Linked DNA regions of Homo sapiens. The gene in region 1 interacts genetically with each later gene. Each region holds a gene or a part of one and is shown in the gene's direction. Other genes may lie near its edges.

Region 1 (3,821 bases):
AGAAACATCATAAAGATGTTGCAGCTCACTACGAATTTCTTTGTGGGCAAAATATGGGGGAGGCATGTAGCTTTTCATCTTGTAACATCTTATTTAGGAACCAAAAAGGGGGAGGCAGATTTGCATGACCCAGTTCCCAGCTTGGCTTTTCCCTTTGACTTAATGAATTTGGGGTCCCAAGATTTAATTTCCTTTCTCAAGAAATAGCAAGCATGACATTGCTGAAGTGCAGTGGTGGCAATTAACAAGTGAATGATGAATGGGTTGAAGTGAGGGACTCATTCTTCAGAACATATAAGGGTGAAATGATGACCAACACCTCCTTGCTTGTTAGTCATGTCTGTAAAAGAAATGGTTCAATATCTCAAGTTGTCTTGCCATTTACCTGCTTTTAATGTCTGTTTTGCAGATTGGGATCAAAGCCACTCACATTAAGTTACCAAGAACAACCACAGAATCTGAGGTGAGCTTTTATGAGTTGATTGTGAAGAGGGAAGGTGAAGTGGTTTCCTCTCTGGTTTTGGTTTACGGGGGCTTTGGGGACTGACACATTTAGCCAAGACCTCCAGGTATTTTTTTTTTTTTTTTTTTTGAGACACAGTTTTGCTCATGTCACCCAGGCTGGAGAGCAATGATGCGATCTCGACTCTCTGCAACCTCCGCCTCCCAGGTTCAAGCAATTCTCCTGCCTCAGCCTCCCGAGTAGCTGGGATTACAGGCGCCCACCGCCTCACCTGGCTAATTTTTATATTTTTAATAGAGACGCGGTTTCACCACGTTGGCCAGGCTGGTCTTGAACTCCTGACCTGAGGTGATTTACCCGCCTTGGCCTCCCAAAGTGCTGGGATTACAGGCGTGAGCCACCACGCCTGGCACCTCCAGGTATTCTTTCTTCACAGACTCCCACAGAGGAGATGGTGCAGGGATGAACATTTGGTACTCAAAGTGTGACTGCAGTACTGTTTGCTTCCAAATCATCTGTTGTGTTTGTTAAAACTGATCCTTGGAGCCAGGCACGGTGGCTCATGCCTGTAATCCCAGCATTTTGGGAGGCCGAGGTGGGCAGATCACCTGAGGTCGGGAGTTCGAGACCAGCCTGGCCAACATGGAGAAACCCTGTCTCTACTAAAAAATACAAAATTTGCCAGGCGTGGTGGCGCATGCCTGTAATCCCAGCTACTTGGAAGGTTGAGGCAGGAGAATCACTTGAACCCGGGAGGCGGAGGTTGCAGTGAGCCAAGATCGTACCATTGCACTCCAACCTGGGAAAAAAGAGCAAAACTCCGTCTCAAAAAAATAGGTAAAACCGATCCTTGGCCTGTAATTATCTGCATTCTAAAAACCAAATATGTATTCCTTTTATATGAGGTTCAGGACTAGGCAGAACAAATCAGCGGTGATTAAAGTCAGAACTGTGGTTGCCTGTAGGTGGGAGATTAATGCTAAACTGTAGGAGGATAAAGCAACTTTCTTGAGGTTATGGCAATGTTCCATATATGCGCTGTCCAGTATGGGAGCCACTAGCCCCATGAGGCTATTTGAATTTAGTTAAAATGAAATAAAATTAAAAATTCACTTCCTTGGTTGTACTAGCCACTTTGCAAGGATTAAGTAGCTGCTATTGTATTGTAAGGTGCAAATTATAGAAAATTTCTGCCATCGCAGAAAAGATGATTGGACATTGCTGCTCTACATCTTGATTTGGATGATTGTAACATGGGTATTATTGCTGTAATAAGTTATTAGAGTTCTTAGCTCTTTTTATTTTATTGTATTGTATTTTTAGAGACAGGGTCTCACTCTTTTGCCTCAGCTGCAGCACAGTGGTGTGATCATAGCTCATTGTAGCCTCAACCTCCTAAGCTCAAGTGATCCTCCCACCTTAGCCTCTTGAGCAGCTGGGACTATAGGCATGAGCCACCATGCCCAGCTAATTTTATTTTATTTTTGAGGCAGAGTTTTACTCTTGTCGCCCAGGCTAGAGTGCAGTGGTGCAATATTGGCTCACTGCAACCTCCACCTCCCAGGTTCAAGCGATTCTCATGCCTCAGCCTCCTGAGTAGCTGTGACTACAGGCATGCGCCACCACGCCCAGCTAATTTTTGTATTTTTAATTGCCCATATTGCCCAGGCTGGTCTCAAACTACTGACCTCAAGTGATCTGCCCACTCAAGCCTCCCAAAGTGCTGGGATTACAGGCGTGAGCCACCGCACCTGTCCCCGCTTTTTTTTTTTTTTTTTTTTTTTTGAGACAGAGTCTTGCTCTGTTGCCCAGGCTGGATGCAGTGGCATGATCTCAGCTCACTGCAGCCTCCGCTTCCTGGGTTCAAGCGATTCTCATGCCTCAGCCTCCTGAGAGGCTGAGATTACAGGCATGCGCCACTATGCCCGGCTTATTTTTTATATTTTTGTAGAGACAGGGTTTCACCATGTTGGCCAGGCTGGTTTCAAACTCCTGGCTTCAAGTGATCCAGTAGCTGCTATTGTATTGTAAGGTGCAAATTATAGAAAATAATTTTCTATATTTTGGGAGGCCTGCCTTGGCTTCCCAAAGTGCTGGGATGACAGGTGTGAGCCACCACACCCAGCCCTAATTTTTTTTTTTTTTTTTTGAGGTGGAGTTTCACTATTGTTGCCCAGGCTGGAGTGCAATGGCACAATCTCAACTCACTGCTGGAGTGCAGTGGCACTATCTCAGCGGACTGCAACCTCCACCTCCCAGGTTCAAGCAATTCTCCTGCCTCAGCCTCCCGAGTAGCTAGGATTACAGGCATGTGCCACCACACCTGGCTAATTTTGTATTTTTAGTAGAGACAGGGTTTCACTATGTTGGCCCAGCTGGTCTCAAACTCCCAACCTCAGGTGATCCACCCACCTCAGCCTCCCAAAGTGCTGGAATTACAGTCGTGAACCACCGCACCCAGCCCCTGGCCCTAATTTTTAAAAAGTTTTTGTAGATATCACATTTCACTGTGTTGTCCAGGCTGGTCTTGAACTCCTGGGTTCAAGTAATCCTCCTGACTTGGCCTCCCAAAGTGCTGGGATTACAGGCATGAGACACCTCGCCCAGCCTCTTAGCTCTTTTATTTGATGGACTTCTTACCAGACACCTAGGGGATGCATTCTATGTTAAAGTACAGGTGCTCTCAGGATTCAAGGGGAAGGTACATTCTGAAAGGACTATAATTAAAGTGTTGGGGGGAAATAGGGCAACCTAATTTTTGCCTTAGAAAGTGTTTCTTCCTACCTTTTGATTTCTGTGTGATATACAAATTATATATGGTATTACTTTTAGGTGATGAAGTACATTACATCTTTGAATGAAGACTCTACTGTACATGGGTTCTTAGTGCAGCTACCTTTAGATTCAGAGAATTCCATTAACACTGAAGAAGTGATCAATGCTATTGCACCCGAGAAGGATGTGGATGGGTAAGTGTGGCTTGGCTTCCTATGTCTCATTGCATGCTTTCATTTATAATATGTTTCTATTTGGGGAATACAGCATAAATGTTTCTAAAGAGTAAAGACATCTAATTGCCTTTATTTCCTTCTTATTTCCATCACTTTTTTAAGATTGACTAGCATCAATGCTGGGAAACTTGCTAGAGGTGACCTCAATGACTGTTTCATTCCTTGTACGCCTAAGGGATGCTTGGAACTCATCAAAGAGACAGGTAAAAACAACAAACCAAACAACAAGAAAGCACCATTTCCTGAATCCTGGTCTTGACATGTGGTGGCATAGAGGAGGTACATTGTGGGCCATAAATAAATGGACTTGATTGGCAGAAGGGCCTGTCTACTAAGGATGTTACCTA
Region 2 (3,821 bases), on another chromosome or scaffold:
ACATTTCACAGCCTCTTGTTCAATTGTTAGGATGTTTTTAGCTTTCACAGGTAGGGAAGAAGGTAGCTTATATAGCCATCATCTTGTTGCTAAAATTGTACAGTAAAGATTTTTCAGGCAATAGATCTTTTCAGATTTTTTTTTCCTTTTTCTTTATCCAGAGCCTCTTTGTGTCTCAAAAACAATCTGGAATTACTTAATGCTAATGTTTTCTGGTTTTACTATTTACCCAGGACTCAAATGTTAAACATTAATATGGGAAACTCCCTTTTCCTTGCCTCATAGCCTTATATTTATTTAACTGTTATTTTGTGAGAAGAAAATCTCCTCTTTTCCTCTCCATGTTAGTACTTTTCTTATTAAGAAACCCGTTTTCGTTTTGTTTTTGCTTTTTTTTAGGAGGCTTTCGAGCTACCCTTGGATGATTGTGAAGTGATTGAAACTGCAGCAGCGTCCGAAGTGATTAAATATGAGTATCATGTCTTATATTCCTGTAGCTACCAAGTGCCTGTACTTTACTTTAGGGCAAGCTTTTTAGGTAAGAACATGTCTGAAGCTAAAAGTAAATTTATAACATTTACATATAAAGCAAAAAGCATATTTGGAAAATTATTCTCCAGAGGAAAAAAAATAGAGTTAAAAATGAGAAAACTGTGGGTGAGGTAAGGTTTTACCACTAAATTTTCTCATGCTTCAGAAAGGGTATCAAGACTTCAGCGTGAATGATATCATCTCAGCCTTAAGTCTGATCTTCAGATTCTTGGCCTTTTGCCTGAAGTTGACTAAGCCCCCTGGCCCTTTTTCTTTTCTTTACTTTAAACAAGTAGGAACAACTTAAAGCTACAATGTTTATTTACTTCTAACTTTACAGTAAAAATTTATTTTAATCTCAGATGATCCAATTAACTCAGAAGCTCCTGTGCCTCCTTCCCCAAAAGCTAATAATTATTTTAAGAAATGTTTATCAATTAGCTTAAGCTGTATTTAAAAATAGCACTAACATTTCCTTCAGCCATCTATACATCTCCAATGCCTTAGCTTCCTGTGATGCTGTTACTCAACTCATTCCCCTGCCAAGAAGGTGGAATACCCTGTCTCCTTGGAGGCCTTAGCTAATAAAGCTTATTTAATCAGCAGCCACATGGCGTCCTCACTCTGCAGCACAGCCATGGCTTCCCGCTTAGAGTCCACTGCCTAAACCGGGTCAGCATTGGGATGTGCTGCCACCCAGGCCCAGGGACCAAGATGAGCCTCCTGTTCAGCCAACCCCTTGCCCTATTTCTCCTTTTGTATCTGGCCTTATCAGCAGCATTGTGCATTTTGAACAGCCTTCTGACTTTTTTCTGGATAGCTAAGACATCTGAATTTAGCCAATGATATTTTATTTTTAATTCAAAAGTAGCTTAAGCTGCTTGAATGTATGTTTGGTAGATTTAATCACTTGCTGTTATATTGTTTAATGGTCTCTAATTTTGCAGTGTTGGCAGTTTAACAAGCACTTAGGATTTAAAACACAAGAAGAAATTCTCATAGACTCCCTGGTGAGAAGATTTTAATCTGAGGTGCAGTTCCTAAGAACTGACAATTTGGGGTAAATTTTCAACATGGGACATGGGGAATGGAGGACACTGATAGTTCACTAATTCACAAACTCTTGCTGTGGATTTATCCATATAATTATTACAAGCCTTTAAAACACTCATTTTATGGTAATTATATTTGGTTTGGAGCCCAGAGGTTAAAGGAAGTTTCTTGTCAGTGAGCTGTGCTATACTAAAAAGTAGGAGATATATTTGTTTATTCAGGGGGAGGAAAATGTCTTTCTTGGTTCTGGTTTGCAATGGCTCTGCCTTCTAGATTCAGAGACAAGTCGAGGCTGCAGGTAGAGGAAATAAGACATTACTTCTTCAATACTGTACTTTCATATAATTAGTATTCACCATAAGCAGTTAATCACCAGAGAAGAGCTCCCAGAGACAAAACAAGTTGTTTAGCTTGTCAGCATTAGGGAATCAGAGGTGTTGAAACATGACTGCTTCTAGCTGGAAGTGGGTCTTGCCAAGGCCTGCTGATGAGCTCATATGTGTGCTTTGCTCTTATGTGCCAACAGCTCCCCTTACAGTACAGCACAGTAATTGTTCCTGCAAGTCCAATTATATTTTAATGACATTGGTGTAGTTTCTGTGATCCTTTCTTCACGATTTTCTATTCTTTTAAAAAAACACAATTAACATTCTTGGCTTCTATTTGTATACTTTTACAATGCCCTCCATTTATGCCTTATAAAGGTAAACCAAAACAAGTCATTTGTTTTTATGTAGAAGCATTCGCCCCCCACCACCACTGCTTTGTGTTGTGTAGAGTGGGTATTAGGAATTTAAAATTTTATTTTGGCCCAGAATTCATTTAGTGCTTGTTCAGGTACATTAAAATATCAAATTTAATTTTTGTGCAGCATACTGAATGTTTTCTGGTGGAGAAACATGAAGAATGGTTCTTTCTTTCCTTTATCATATTCTAATAATTTATTTTTTCTTTCCACCTAACTTAACCTCATGGATATTTTTAAAATGTATCAACCTTTACTCTGGAGTCACAATTTTTCATTTATTCCCCCCCCAGTCTTTTTTATTCTCCTTACTTTTTCCTGTGATATCTGATTACTCTGGCCCTTCATCTGTTTGTTAAACAAATCTCTGTCAGTGTGGTGAAAGGATTCCTAATGTCTTCCTCTTATTCCAGGCCCGGATTTTTCTTTGTCTCATTCTAAGAGAGTTCCGACCTAGAAAGAGGATGACTGTAAAATTTCTTGCCCAGGGGTCTTTTTTTGTTGTTGTTGCTTCAAAAATAGTTCACTTAGCCTTGTTTTTGACAGATATTTATAATTTCTTTTGCATTTGATTGTTAGTACAAATTAATTTCTCTGCTTTGCTCTAAATTTTCTCCCTGTACCTATTTTTTTAAGGAAAAGCAAAACAAGTAATAAATAGTTTCCATTTAAATTTACATTACCCTTTCTTGTATCAACTTGTTTAGATTTCAGAAGAAATCTTTACTCTGGTTCTCGAAATGCAAATCCCTTAGACTTTGAATTCCTTTTCTTTATATGGTCCAGTTTCCACCAGGCCAATTACTAGTAGCCCAAGACTCAGTTAACATGCCATCTATTCTTGTCGCTCCCATGTCATGTCATGTCATATCATATCATATATTCTATTATATCACAATTTGTACTATAGCAGAAATATTTGTTTATATCTATAAAATGATATGCTGGAACATAGAGCTTCAAGATAAAAACAAGAGTGAAGGAAATTGATACTGAGTGCCTACAAAGTGAGAAGCTTTATTTATGGCTTTGTGTGTATACATGTATAAGATATATGTATGTATATATATGGCTTATTCAGCTGTGGCACAGCATCAAGTATTTGTTAAGTGAAACGATAAAGAAGAATTTCTAGTCATTTAAAAAATACAGCCCAAGAATGGAAACATTGTGATGGTGCCTACTTCAACTGCTATGCCAGGTTTTGAAAGAGGAAGTAATTCTGTTGTCTCCAGGAGACCTAAGACCCAAACCATCTATGTATCTTTACTCTTTAGTCTGATACTTTTCAGAGACTATAGGAGTAGTGGACTTAGAAAAATAGAACATCCTGAGGACTCAAAAGTGGGTATCCAAACTAGCTGAAGCAGCTGTTCCACTTCTATAAACACGTATTTTTATTTAATTCTTGAAGGCAGACAGCCAAGTTGAGACAGCATTCTGCTTCTGCCTCTCATTTCTACTACTTTGGTGTACAGGAGCTCAGTTACCA

Evidence for each region.
Region 2: of MTHFD1 (region 1) and ATG10, changing one suppresses a phenotype caused by changing the other (phenotypic suppression), as found in Homo sapiens cells (one large-scale study listed by BioGRID).

The regions. Positions count from the first base shown.
Region 1 is NC_000014.9:64,412,063-64,415,883, forward strand, and holds part of MTHFD1 (C-1-tetrahydrofolate synthase, cytoplasmic), read left to right. Parts: intron 1-409; coding exon 410-463; intron 464-3,295; coding exon 3,296-3,432; intron 3,433-3,576; coding exon 3,577-3,677; intron 3,678-3,821. UniProt on the Homo sapiens protein: Trifunctional enzyme that catalyzes the interconversion of three forms of one-carbon-substituted tetrahydrofolate: (6R)-5,10-methylene-5,6,7,8-tetrahydrofolate, 5,10-methenyltetrahydrofolate and (6S)-10-formyltetrahydrofolate.
Region 2 is NC_000005.10:82,164,000-82,167,820, forward strand, and holds part of ATG10 (ubiquitin-like-conjugating enzyme ATG10), read left to right. Parts: intron 1-399; coding exon 400-538; intron 539-3,821. UniProt on the Homo sapiens protein: E2-like enzyme involved in autophagy. Acts as an E2-like enzyme that catalyzes the conjugation of ATG12 to ATG5. ATG12 conjugation to ATG5 is required for autophagy. Likely serves as an ATG5-recognition molecule. Not involved in ATG12 conjugation to ATG3.